Regions from separate parts of the Homo sapiens genome. Here region 1 is linked to region 2. Evidence: fine-mapped expression QTL. A gene starts in region 2. The other region holds a variant in brackets. All regions are shown on one strand. Distances are from middle to middle.

What was found. PIP is the estimated chance that this variant, and not a neighbour inherited with it, causes the effect.
Region 1: its variant is the best candidate, but not a certain one, in a credible set for the expression of ALAD in whole blood (TOPMed, PIP 0.59).

The regions. Positions count from the first base shown.
Region 1 is chr9:113,454,252-113,459,629 of GRCh38, forward strand. It overlaps a transcript of RGS3 not described here. Among named protein-coding and RNA genes, the nearest start is that of RGS3, 6.8 kb to the right of the region's middle. The variant C/T (reference allele first, on the strand shown) is at 2,851.
Region 2 is chr9:113,398,330-113,403,707 of GRCh38, forward strand. It overlaps ALAD (aminolevulinate dehydratase), which reads right to left and starts at 2,955. Exons shown (of 12, transcript NM_000031.6): 1 at 2,883-2,955. RefSeq lists an enhancer at 2,111-2,691 and silencers at 2,707-2,756, 2,907-3,266.

The DNA of each region.
Region 1 (5,378 bases), 56 kb after region 2:
GATATTTTTATATTCTTACAAGTATTCTTTAGCTTGTTCTGGGATGCAGTTAAGTTACTTAGAAACAGTTTGATCCTAGCTGGGTGCGGTGCATGCCTGTAATCCCAGCACTTTGGGAGGCTGAGGTGGGTGGATCACTTGAGGTCAGGAGTTTGAGACCAGCCTGGCCAACATGGTGAAACCCTGTCTCTACTAAAAATACAAAACTTAGCCAGGTGGGGTGGTGCACACCTGTAGTCCCAGCTACTTAGCAGGCTGAGGCATAAGAATCACTTGAACCTGGGAGGTGGAGGTTGCAGTGAGCTGAGATCTTGCTACTGCACTCCATCCTGGGCGACAGAGCGAGACAGTATCAAAAAAACAAAACAAAACAAAACAAAACAAAAACCAAAATCAAAAACAGTTTGATCCTTTTGGGTCTTGCTTTTAAACTTTTTTTTTTTTTTTTTTTTTTAGATGGACAAGTACAGCATTTAATCTAGGGTTGATTATTCCCCACAACTGAGGGAAGACCCTTCTGAGTATTCTATCTAATACCTCCTAAGGAATTAGAAGGTCTTTCCACTCTGGTTGATGAGCTTAAGAACTATTCCTGGCCCTGTGTGAGCTTTAAAGATTGTTCCCTGTAATTCTTTGGTGGTTCTTTCCCCAGCCTTGGGATACTTTCCTCAAACCCATGAGCTCATTAGCACTTAGCTGAAGTTGTGAGTGGGGACTCTCTGGAGACCTCTGGGGCCCTCTCTTTGTGTGACTGTCTCCTCTCTGGTACTCTGCCTTGGAACTCTAGCTGCCTTGGCCTCCCGAACTTCTCAGTTCAGGGATTTGGAGTTGGCCTGAGTTCCCTCTCCCTTTTGGAAAGTCTCTCCCGGGAATAAGCTGGGCTGATCACAGGGCACAGCTTGTCTCTTTTCTGTTTCTCAGGGATCACTGTCCTTCGTTGCCTGATGTACAATATCTTAAAAACCATTGTTTCATATATTTTGTCCAGTCTTTTAGTTGTTTCAGGTGAAGGGAAAATCCAGTTCCTGTTATTCCATCTTGGCTGGAAACAGAAGTCTATATTGTTTTTTAATTTTGAAAAACTGAGGGCCTCTGGAATGTAGGATTATGCCAGGCCAAGTTGCTCATTATCAGGCCAGGAAAAGCAGCTCTTGAAGAGGCTGAAAGGGCTTCCAGCCTAACTGCGAGGGTGCTGAGTCATTCTAGCAGAGACCAGGCACTCTGCTTTTCTGGCTCTTATCAAGTCTTTAGCTTTTATCTTTGGACTCAACTTACTAGTTCACATTCCTTTGGTGGTGAAGGTTTGGTCTCTTCCACTTTGAAGCAGTATCTCTCCGCTTACACTTGAAATCTTGAATCTTTTACTTGGTTCTCTTTAGTCCCTGTTTGTGTATTTAGGTCACTAGAGGCTTCTACATCTGGGGCACATTAAAGTTCCTCAGTGGTATTTACAGCAACCAGCATCTGTTTCTGTAGAGAACAATTAACCCAAAGATACCACCTTGTTCTACCTTGAAGATGAATTACAGAGACACTTTTAAAAGGCAAATCCTTCATTTCAAGGGTGAATAAAATACCACTTAACAAAGCATTCCAGCTGGTTAAATTTAGGACATGAAAAAAACCTGACCCAAGAATATCGTCTGGCTTTGAGTCCAGGGTGTTTTTCCTTTTAGAGTAAATTTGGTACCTTTTCATTCATGTGAAGTTGTTGCCCCCCAGCATTTTATTCTGGGATGAAAGGTCAACAGGGACTGTCTTGTTGCTAAATCTAATGGACACTTCTCAGTTATTAAACCTACTGGACCTCTTAACAATATTTGACACTGTTGACTATTATTTCCTTCTTAATACATCCCCTGACTTTTCCTTCCCCTTTCAGGCCTTTCTTCCTCTGCCTGTTTTTTCAGTTGGTACTACTCTTGGTTCTGTCCTGAGCTTTCTCACATTAAACATTCCCTGTGGGCTGTCTTATGCATGCTCATGGCCTCACAGGGAATTCCTAAATCTATATTTCTAGCCTAAGTATTTTTTGCTGAGCTTCAGACCATTATGTTCAACTGTTCACTTGACATCTTCACTTGGATGGCACATGGGTCACCCAACCTTAGCAGGCTCACAGTTGAACTCATCCATTCTCCCCTCAGTTCAGCCCTGCCTCTCATGTTCTTCATTTCTGCAAAGGGCACTTCTAAACAATTTCTCAAGCCAGAATTCCTTGCATTCCATCTTCTACTCAATCACCATGGCCTGTTGATTCTATCTCTTTCCATCCCTATTGCCACTTCCCTAGTTTGGTCATTGTCATCTTTTACCTGGATGACCAGAAAAGACTTCTAAGAGCAATTTTTGCTTCCGACCCTCATGTCATGCAAACGCCTCCACCCCTAACCAATTTGTTTTTTTTTTTTTCGTATTCTAGCCAGAGCAATCTTTCTAAAATGTGAATTAAAGGCTGTTGGGATCTTGCTTAAAATATTTGACAACTGCTCTATGCTCTTAAAATAAAGCCCAATCTCCTTATAATAAAATATGCAGCCCTATATGATTTATTTATTTTTTTTTTGAGACAGAGTTTCGCTTTTGTCTTCCAGACTGGAGTACAATGCGATGATCTCAGCTCACTGCAACCTCTGCCTCCGGGTTCAAGCCATTCTCCTGCCTCAGCCTCCCGAGTAGCTGGGATTACAGGCATGCGCCACCACACTGGCTAATTTTGTATTTTAGTAGAGATGGGTTTCACCATGTTGGCCAGGCTGGTCTCAAACTCCTGAACTCAGGTGATCCACCTACCTCAGCCTCCCAAAGTGCTGGGATTACAGGCGTGAGTCACCGCGCCTGGCCGAGGCC[C/T]TGTATGATTTGGCCCCTGTTTACTTTCTTGCATATTACTGATTCCCTCACGTTCTAAGTTCCCTGCCACATTTCCCATTGTTCAGTTCCTCAAACGTACAACGCCCCCTCTCACTTTCTGGCCTTTACATGTTTTGTTCTTTCTGCCTGTAACCCTTCCTTCCTCTCCTATACTTGGCTAAATCATACTGCAGGTGATTTTCTTTGGGCAGTCTTCCTTGACCCCCTTTATCATCTTGGTTTGCCTAGCTCCCCAGATTAAGTGAAATGTTATTCTATGCTTCCAGAGGTTGCTGTGTTTCCTCTATTGTAATGCTTACCCAATCTCCCACTTGACTATAAACTCCATCTTTTTCACTGCTATATGTATCCCCAGTGCCCAGTTATAAGGCTCAGCTCCATAGGTGCTTAGCAAACACTTGTTGAATTGAACTTTAATGTGTCAGTAGCCACAGAAGTCTCAGTCCTGCTAGACCGTAGCCTTGCCACTTTGAGCAAGAGGACTGCTGGGAGAGATGGTATTCTATAATGGTTCTCTTGCTGGGAGCTGGATTTTTATTTCCCCACTGTTTATTTACTAGTTTAGCAACCTGATTCAGTTAACAACTCTGCATCTTAGTTGCTTCATATATAAATACAAATGCTTGAACTTTCTGAAAGCAAATGGTGGGCCAGATTTTTTTTTCTTTTTCATTTCCTTGGTTACTAGAAAACCCAGGTAGCTTTTGAGGCAATTTCTATAAGACCTTCAAGAAACAGATGATGCCAATGCAATTTTGGCTATTTCAGAACCCAGGAAAAAAATGAAGATTTGTCAGTGCTAGGTAGGAAGCTAGACAGAGACAAAAACCAAATAAGGTTAGAAACAGGAAACTATAGACAAAAGGTCAAAGGTAAAAATCTCTTCATAGACCAATTTGACTGATGCCTATAGATGTAAAAATACTAATAAAATATTAGCAAATCAAATCCCACAGTGTATGCATGATCGAGTCAGTAGAGACGGGGTTTCACCATGTTGCTCAGGCTGGTCTCAAACTCCTGACCTCAAGCGATCCGCCTGCCTTGGCCTCCCAAAGTCCTGGGATTACAGGCGTGAGCCACTGTGCCTGGCCAAATTCATTTTTTTAGTTAAAAACATTTTACATTTTTCTGGCCATAGAAAAGTCTTTAACTTTAAAAATTTTCACCCAACCATTTGAAAATGTAAAATGCATCCTTAGCTCACCTGTTGTACAAAAACAGGCAGCCAGCCAGATTTGGTTGGTAGGCCATAGTTTGCCAACCCCTGCACTAATATGTTCACTAAATTTGAACCATTTTTGCATCTCTAGGATAAATACCAACTTGATCATGAATATACTGTTGGATTTGATTTGCTTGTATTTTATTAGTATTTTTACATTTATATTCATAAGTCAGATTGGGCTATGTAGAAATTTCAAACTAGCTGTGGGGTATAGATGTATTCTATTTAGCCTTCATAACATTTTAAAACATTTTGAATGAGTTATTAATATTAACAAATTGGGAAATATTACATGGATTATTTAAGATTGCTGGCTTTTCTTTAAAAAAAAGTGACAAAACTGGGAGAATGTTGGCCTAGTTTCGCCACATTTTAATAGATCTGCTCTATTGTATATTTTCTTTCTTTTTTCTTTTTTTGAGACAGAGTCTTGCTCTGTTGTCCAGGCTGGAGCACAGTGGCATTATCTTGGCCCACTGCAACCTCTGCCTCCCGGGTTCAAGTGATTCTCATGCCTCAGTCTCCCGAGTAGCTAGGACTACAGGCGCATGCCACCACACCTGACTATCTTTTGTATTTTTAGCAAACATGGGTTTCACCATATTGATCAGGCTGGTCTTGAACTCCTGACCTCAGGTGATCCATCCATCTTGGTCTCCCAAAGTGTTGGGATGACAGGCATGAGCCACTGCATCCAGCCTCTATTGTATATTTTCTATTTAATTAACTTCTATTCTTACTTTTATCTTTTACCTTTGGTCTATAGTTTTCTGTTTCTAACCTTACTTGGTTTTTGTCTTTGTCTAGCTTTCTACCTAGCGCTGACACATCTTTGTTTTTTCCTATGTTCTGAAATAGTTAAAACTACATTAGCATCATCTGTTTCTTGAAGATCTTATAGAATTAGCCTCTTAAAACTATCTGGATTTTCTATAATTTTGTCGAATAGAGTTTTGGTTTCCTTTTCTATTTTATCTATAGTTAGTGATCTATTAAAAATTTCAAACTTTTTATCAATTTTACTAATTAATACTTTCTAGAAAATCATCCAGTTCCTTTCAGATTTTCAAATTTATACAATAAGGTTGCAGTGGTTTTCTCTTATAATTTAAAATATTAGCCAGCACGGTGGTTCACGCCTATAATCCCAGCGCTGTGGGAGGCCAAGGTGTACGGTTCACTTGAGGTCAGGAGTTCGAAACCATCCTGGCCAACATGGTGAAAACCTGTCTCTACTAAAAATACAAAAATTAGCTAGGTGTGGTGGCGCGTGCCTGTA
Region 2 (5,378 bases):
ATCTCTCTGACTCACTTCCCACAAACAATCTCTGTTGTTTTCTGGCTTCTGAATCCAAAGCTGCATTCCACTGGCCTCAACTCCCCATCGCTTTTAGGAGGCTGAGGGAACAACTGGCTCCTGCTTAGCAGAAACCCTGGGGCAGGACTGCCTAGGAGCCTGAGACCGGGGCAGGGTTAGAGTAAAGGGAACAGTCTCACTACAGCAGTCCACTTTGATCTGTTTTTGAATTTTAAGATTCAGAGACAGATTTGATTTGAGAAACGGCTGTCAGTGCTGAAAATATTAAAAGCTTGAAAATTGCCAATCCTGTTTAATCCCTTACACTTTAATGTGGAAAATGGGGTATAAAGAGGCAACGGGACTTTTGGAGATCACAGTGAGTGACATACAGAGCTATAAACTGACCCTGCAGCTCCTGGCTTCTATTTCAGTGCCCTGATACCTACACCATAGAGTCATTCCATTGTAAGAGGTACTTAATAAGTGGAGTTTCCCACTCCATTCTGTGAGTGGGAAAACACCCCCTGAATCACATATTGGCAGAGCCAAATGCAGGGTGGGTTTTGCTTTGCAAAAAGGCCCTTAGAGTTTGGGAGAATTTCACAGACTGGGAGGGCACTTCTCCCAAATCAAGCGAGCTTGCAAACCACAATTTAAATGCCTGTGACATTACCACACTGAAGACAGGAGCGAGCCGCCAGGAGGTCCAGCACCTCTGCCCAACCACATCAGACAGGTTAGCTTTGCTGGGACGCAGAGTATAGGGCGGTGCAGAAAGATCCATGTTTCAGGGTCAGACAGTCCCAGGTTTGGTCTATGCTCTGCTGTGTAATTTTGGGCAAAGTAATTGACCTTTCAGTGTTCATTTCATAATCTACAAAATAGGCATGATATCTCTAACTTGCAAGGCTGTGGAGATTATTGATAGGGATAAGGTAGGTGTCTGGCACCAAGTAGCTGCACAGTAAACATGTAGCTACTTTTATTACTATTAGGAGTGGGGCTGGGTTGGAACGAGATGTCCTGGCACAGCTCTGTGCCTTCTGCACCTCACCAGATGGGAATATGAGCTCAAACCCTTGTGGGCCACAGGGTTTTCCAAGATTTCTGAAGTGGAGTCCCTGCCTTCCAGCAGGTTATGTGGTGGAGGAAAAACAAAATAATCACCACCGGGCTGCCAGAGTAGAGGGGTGGACCAGGTGCTGTCAGAGGGACTGTGTCTCTGAGTCAAGGGTGGTTTCATGGAAGAGGGGACAGTGAAGGATAAGAAGTGTTTCAGATTTAATATGAAAGTATCTCCTCCCATGGAAGGCAACATCCCCAAACTGGGAGTAACTGAAGTTGGGCCCTGAGCACTGCTACCAGGAGGGGCTATGAGCTTCATGTGCCACCCCCCACCCCTGCAAGTTGTACTATGCTGAGGATTCCAGAGGCTGTGGGTCTTCGCACAGAGGCTTAGGACCTGCTGCCAGCCCTGGCAGGCTCTGCCACTGGCCAGGGAGGAGGCAGTCAGGAGAGCCAGCTAGATAGAAGGTGGCCAGAACTGAGAAATCCAAAGCCCCACAAAGGCCCAGGAGAGCAGCTGTCATGCAGTTCTGAAAAGAGATGAAGTGTTTATTCAGCCAACCCACATTTCTTGAATATCTACTATGGGCCTGCTGAAGTGCTAGACACAGGGATTAAAGAGAAGAATGAGACCCCAGCCTTGCCCTGGGGCTTTGAAGAGCCTGATCGCCTCTGGGGTTAGCCATTTAGACGTAGGAGAAGCTGCCATTCCCAGAATCCTAGAATATCTTGGCTAAGAGTCTTCTTAAAGTTTGCTGATTGTATCACTGAAACAAGGGTGAAACTGGGCTCAGAGAGGGGTAGACACAGGCCCAGGATCACGCAGTGGGTCAGCGGCAGATCTGGGGGAAGGTCTCCAGCAGCCCAGTCCTCAGTGCCCACCATGACACCTCCATACTTTAAGGATAGATATCAAATCTGTTTCCCAGCAGGTTGGGCTTGTGGAGAGCTTTGGGTGAGCCAGACTCTGGGCCTGGCTGCTGTTGGTAGCAGGATGGTTAAGTATGTGGGCTCTGGAGTCTGATAGATGTGGGTACAAATCCTAGTTCTGTAGCTTTCTAGTTGTGTGACCTCAGTTTCTTCGTTTAGTAAATGGGGACTAGAACCGACCTCAATGGGTTGTTGTAAGAAATGAATGGGTCAGGCCGGGCGTGGTGGCTCACGCCTGTAATCCCAGCACTTTGGGAGGCCGAGGTGGGCGAATCACCTGAGCTCGGGAGTTCGAGACTAGCCTGACCAACAGGGAGAAACCCCATCTCTACTAAAAATACAAAAATTAGCAGGCGTGGTGGCACACGCCTGTAATCCCAGCTAGTTGGCAGGCTGAGGCAGGAGAATCGCTTGAACCCGGGAGGCGGAGGTTGCAGTGAGCTGAGATCGCGCCATTGCACTCCAGCCTGGGCAACAAGAGCGAAACTCCGTCTCAAAAATAAATAAATAAATAAAATAAATGAATGGTCAATGCACGCAACGCTTAGTACAAAACGGCTGTTATTGTTTTCACCTCCCTACCCCCCCACCAACCACCACCCGCACCTCGGGTTCTGCATCGATGGAGTCTGCCCAGGCGGTATCCGAGAGGGTGAACCCCAGAGAAGAGGTGCGGAGCCCCGAACCCGGGCCCCCAACCTCGGCTGCAGCGGGATAATCCAGCCCAAACAAACGCTCCACGGGACTCCGTGCACGGCTGCACCGCCAGGGCTTCAGGCGCACAGCACAATCTGGGGACGCAGGACTCTTGGTGCCACAGTCCCCGCCTCGCCCTGGAGCCGCCCTCCAGGCCCGCTATCTCCCCGCATCCAGCCCCCGCTCACCTGCCTCCCTAAGGGCTCCCGGCCGCTGCTCCTGTCACCGCTGTCTCCCGCTCCGGTCTCCCACAGACCGCGTAAGAGCGGGGGGGGCTCACCCGGAAGCAGCTTCCCCACGGTCCGCCCCCTCCACAGTCCAGGCCACGCCCCCTGAAGGCGGTCTTCTGGGGGGCTCCTCCGCTCCAGCCGCGGCCCCGCCCACACGCAACGAGGCCTGGCCAATTGGGTGTGTCGAGGGCCTGGAGGGCCCGCCCGTCCCCGCTCCGGGCCCTGCGCTTGTGCAGCGAACTGCAGGAGGGAGGCCACGAGGGGGCGCAGGAACCGCTTGGGAGGGTCCCTGGGTGTGAGCCGGCCTCGGAGGCGGTTACAGCCCAGGTTTCACTTCACAGCATTCCTTTGCCCAGCCTAGGGCAAACTTGGCTCTGGTTAATGGCTTGGTGAAAGAATAATTGGATGTCAAAGCCGTTAAAACAGCACCATTATGCCTAACACAGTATTAGCTAAGTCCATTTTTGCGGACTAAGCTAAAGTTGTTGAGTTCAGCGCCAGGCTTCCAAGTTTTCAGAGAAAATTTGTACCAGCTTCATTTATTTCTCAGGGTACGGCAATGCTATGAGTTGAGAGATGTGATGTGAAAGACATGGGCGTTTAGGAAAACTCCAAGTCTTGATAGGGGCATCAGACCTATGATAGGTACAATGATAGATCCGATCAAAGGTCTTTATGGAGATTGGAGATGTGCAGAGGCAAGAGGGATCTGGTGAGGCTTATGGGGCCTGGGTAAACCAGTAGGATTGGATGAGTAAAATGGCGATCGGGCATCATCGCCCTAGCGAAGCAATGCCTTTCAGGTGGTTCTTCAGGGATTATTGAAAAGTTGACTTTCAAATGTAGAGGACACTAGTGGGTTACATTACACTTATTCTCAGATTTTATTTCTCAGCCCGGTTCGGTGGCTCACGCCTGTAATCCCAGCACTTTGGGAGGCCAAGGCGGGCGGATCTCTTGAGGTCAGGAGTTCAAGACCAGCCTGACCAACATGGTGAAACCCTGTCTCTACTAAAAATACAAAAAATTAGCCGGGCGTGGTGGCGGGCTCCTGTAATCCCAGCTACTCGGGAGGCTGAGGCAGGAGAATCGCTTGAACCCGGGAGGCGGAGGTTGTAATGGGCTGAGATCATGCCACTGCATTCCAGCCTGGGTGACAGAGGGAGACTCTGTCTCAAAAAAAAATTTTTTTTTAAATTTCTCAAAATCTGTACCCCAAACCTGTTGTATACTTTATATTTTAAATTTAAGGGGCCTAGCGGCGTAAGGCTAGGGAAATATGACACTGCTTAGTTTCCAGCTACTGGAGTTCTGATCTGTATTCAACAAGGAAGGGGATAGAAAGCAAATAATGTTTGCTGTGCATTAAAGAGTCAGGGACAGTACCATGCATTTTACATTCATTTATCTAATCTTGACAGCAACGATGTTACTATTCTCACTTTACGGATTGGGAAAACAATTGCCAGCTAGATTAAATAATTTGCCCCATGTTACACTGGGCTCTCTCTGCAATGCCTGCTAATAACCACACTCCATAGGGGCAATTATTATTTGTTTTTTCCTAGATTCCCTGCCCGACATTTCTTTCCTGACACTCATTCCTTCCCTGAGGTTATTGGTAACTAAAAATAATTAGAACCATCTAAGAACCCAAATAGAACGGGAAATTTTAAAATGTTGCTGTTTGGTGTAGCTTATTTCCCCCATGTCTTTTCTTCTTCTTGACTGAAAGACCTGTTCCCACTCTCCCCCCAGCCTCCACCTTTTGAAACATTTTACCTTAATCTTTCAGTATTGTGAATGCAATAATATGAATAAATCTTAAACATATTGTTGAGTAAAAGAAGTGAGACACAAAATAGTATATAATATGATTTCATTTATATTAACTACACAATCAAGCAAAATTAAGCTGTGTTGTTAGGACTCAGAATAGTGATTTCCACTGGGGAGATGGGGAGGATTGAAAGGGAGATTAGGCTGGGTGTGGTGGCTCACACCTGTAATCCTAGCACTTTGGGAGGCCAAGGCTGGTGGATCGCTTGAGCCCAGGAGTTCAAGACCAACCTTGGCAACATGGCGAAACAGTCTCTACAAAAATTACAAAAAGTAGCTGGGCATGGTGGTGGACACCTGTAGTCCCAGCTACTTGGGAGGCTGACATGGGAGGATTGCTTGAGCCTGGGAGGTCAAGGCTGCGGTAAGCTGTGATCGTACCACTGCACTCCAGCCTGGATGACAGAGCAAGACCCTGTCTCCAGAAAAAAAAAAAAAAAAAAAAAAAAAAAAGGCGGCAGGGGGAGACTAAAGAGGTTTCTTTGGATGCAGTTAATGTTTATTGGTCTGGGTGTGAGTTACATGGCTGTGTTTAATTCGTGAAAATTCATTAAGCTCCACACTTATTTGTGTCTTTTAGTATGTATATTTCGTTTCAATAAAAAGTTAAAACTA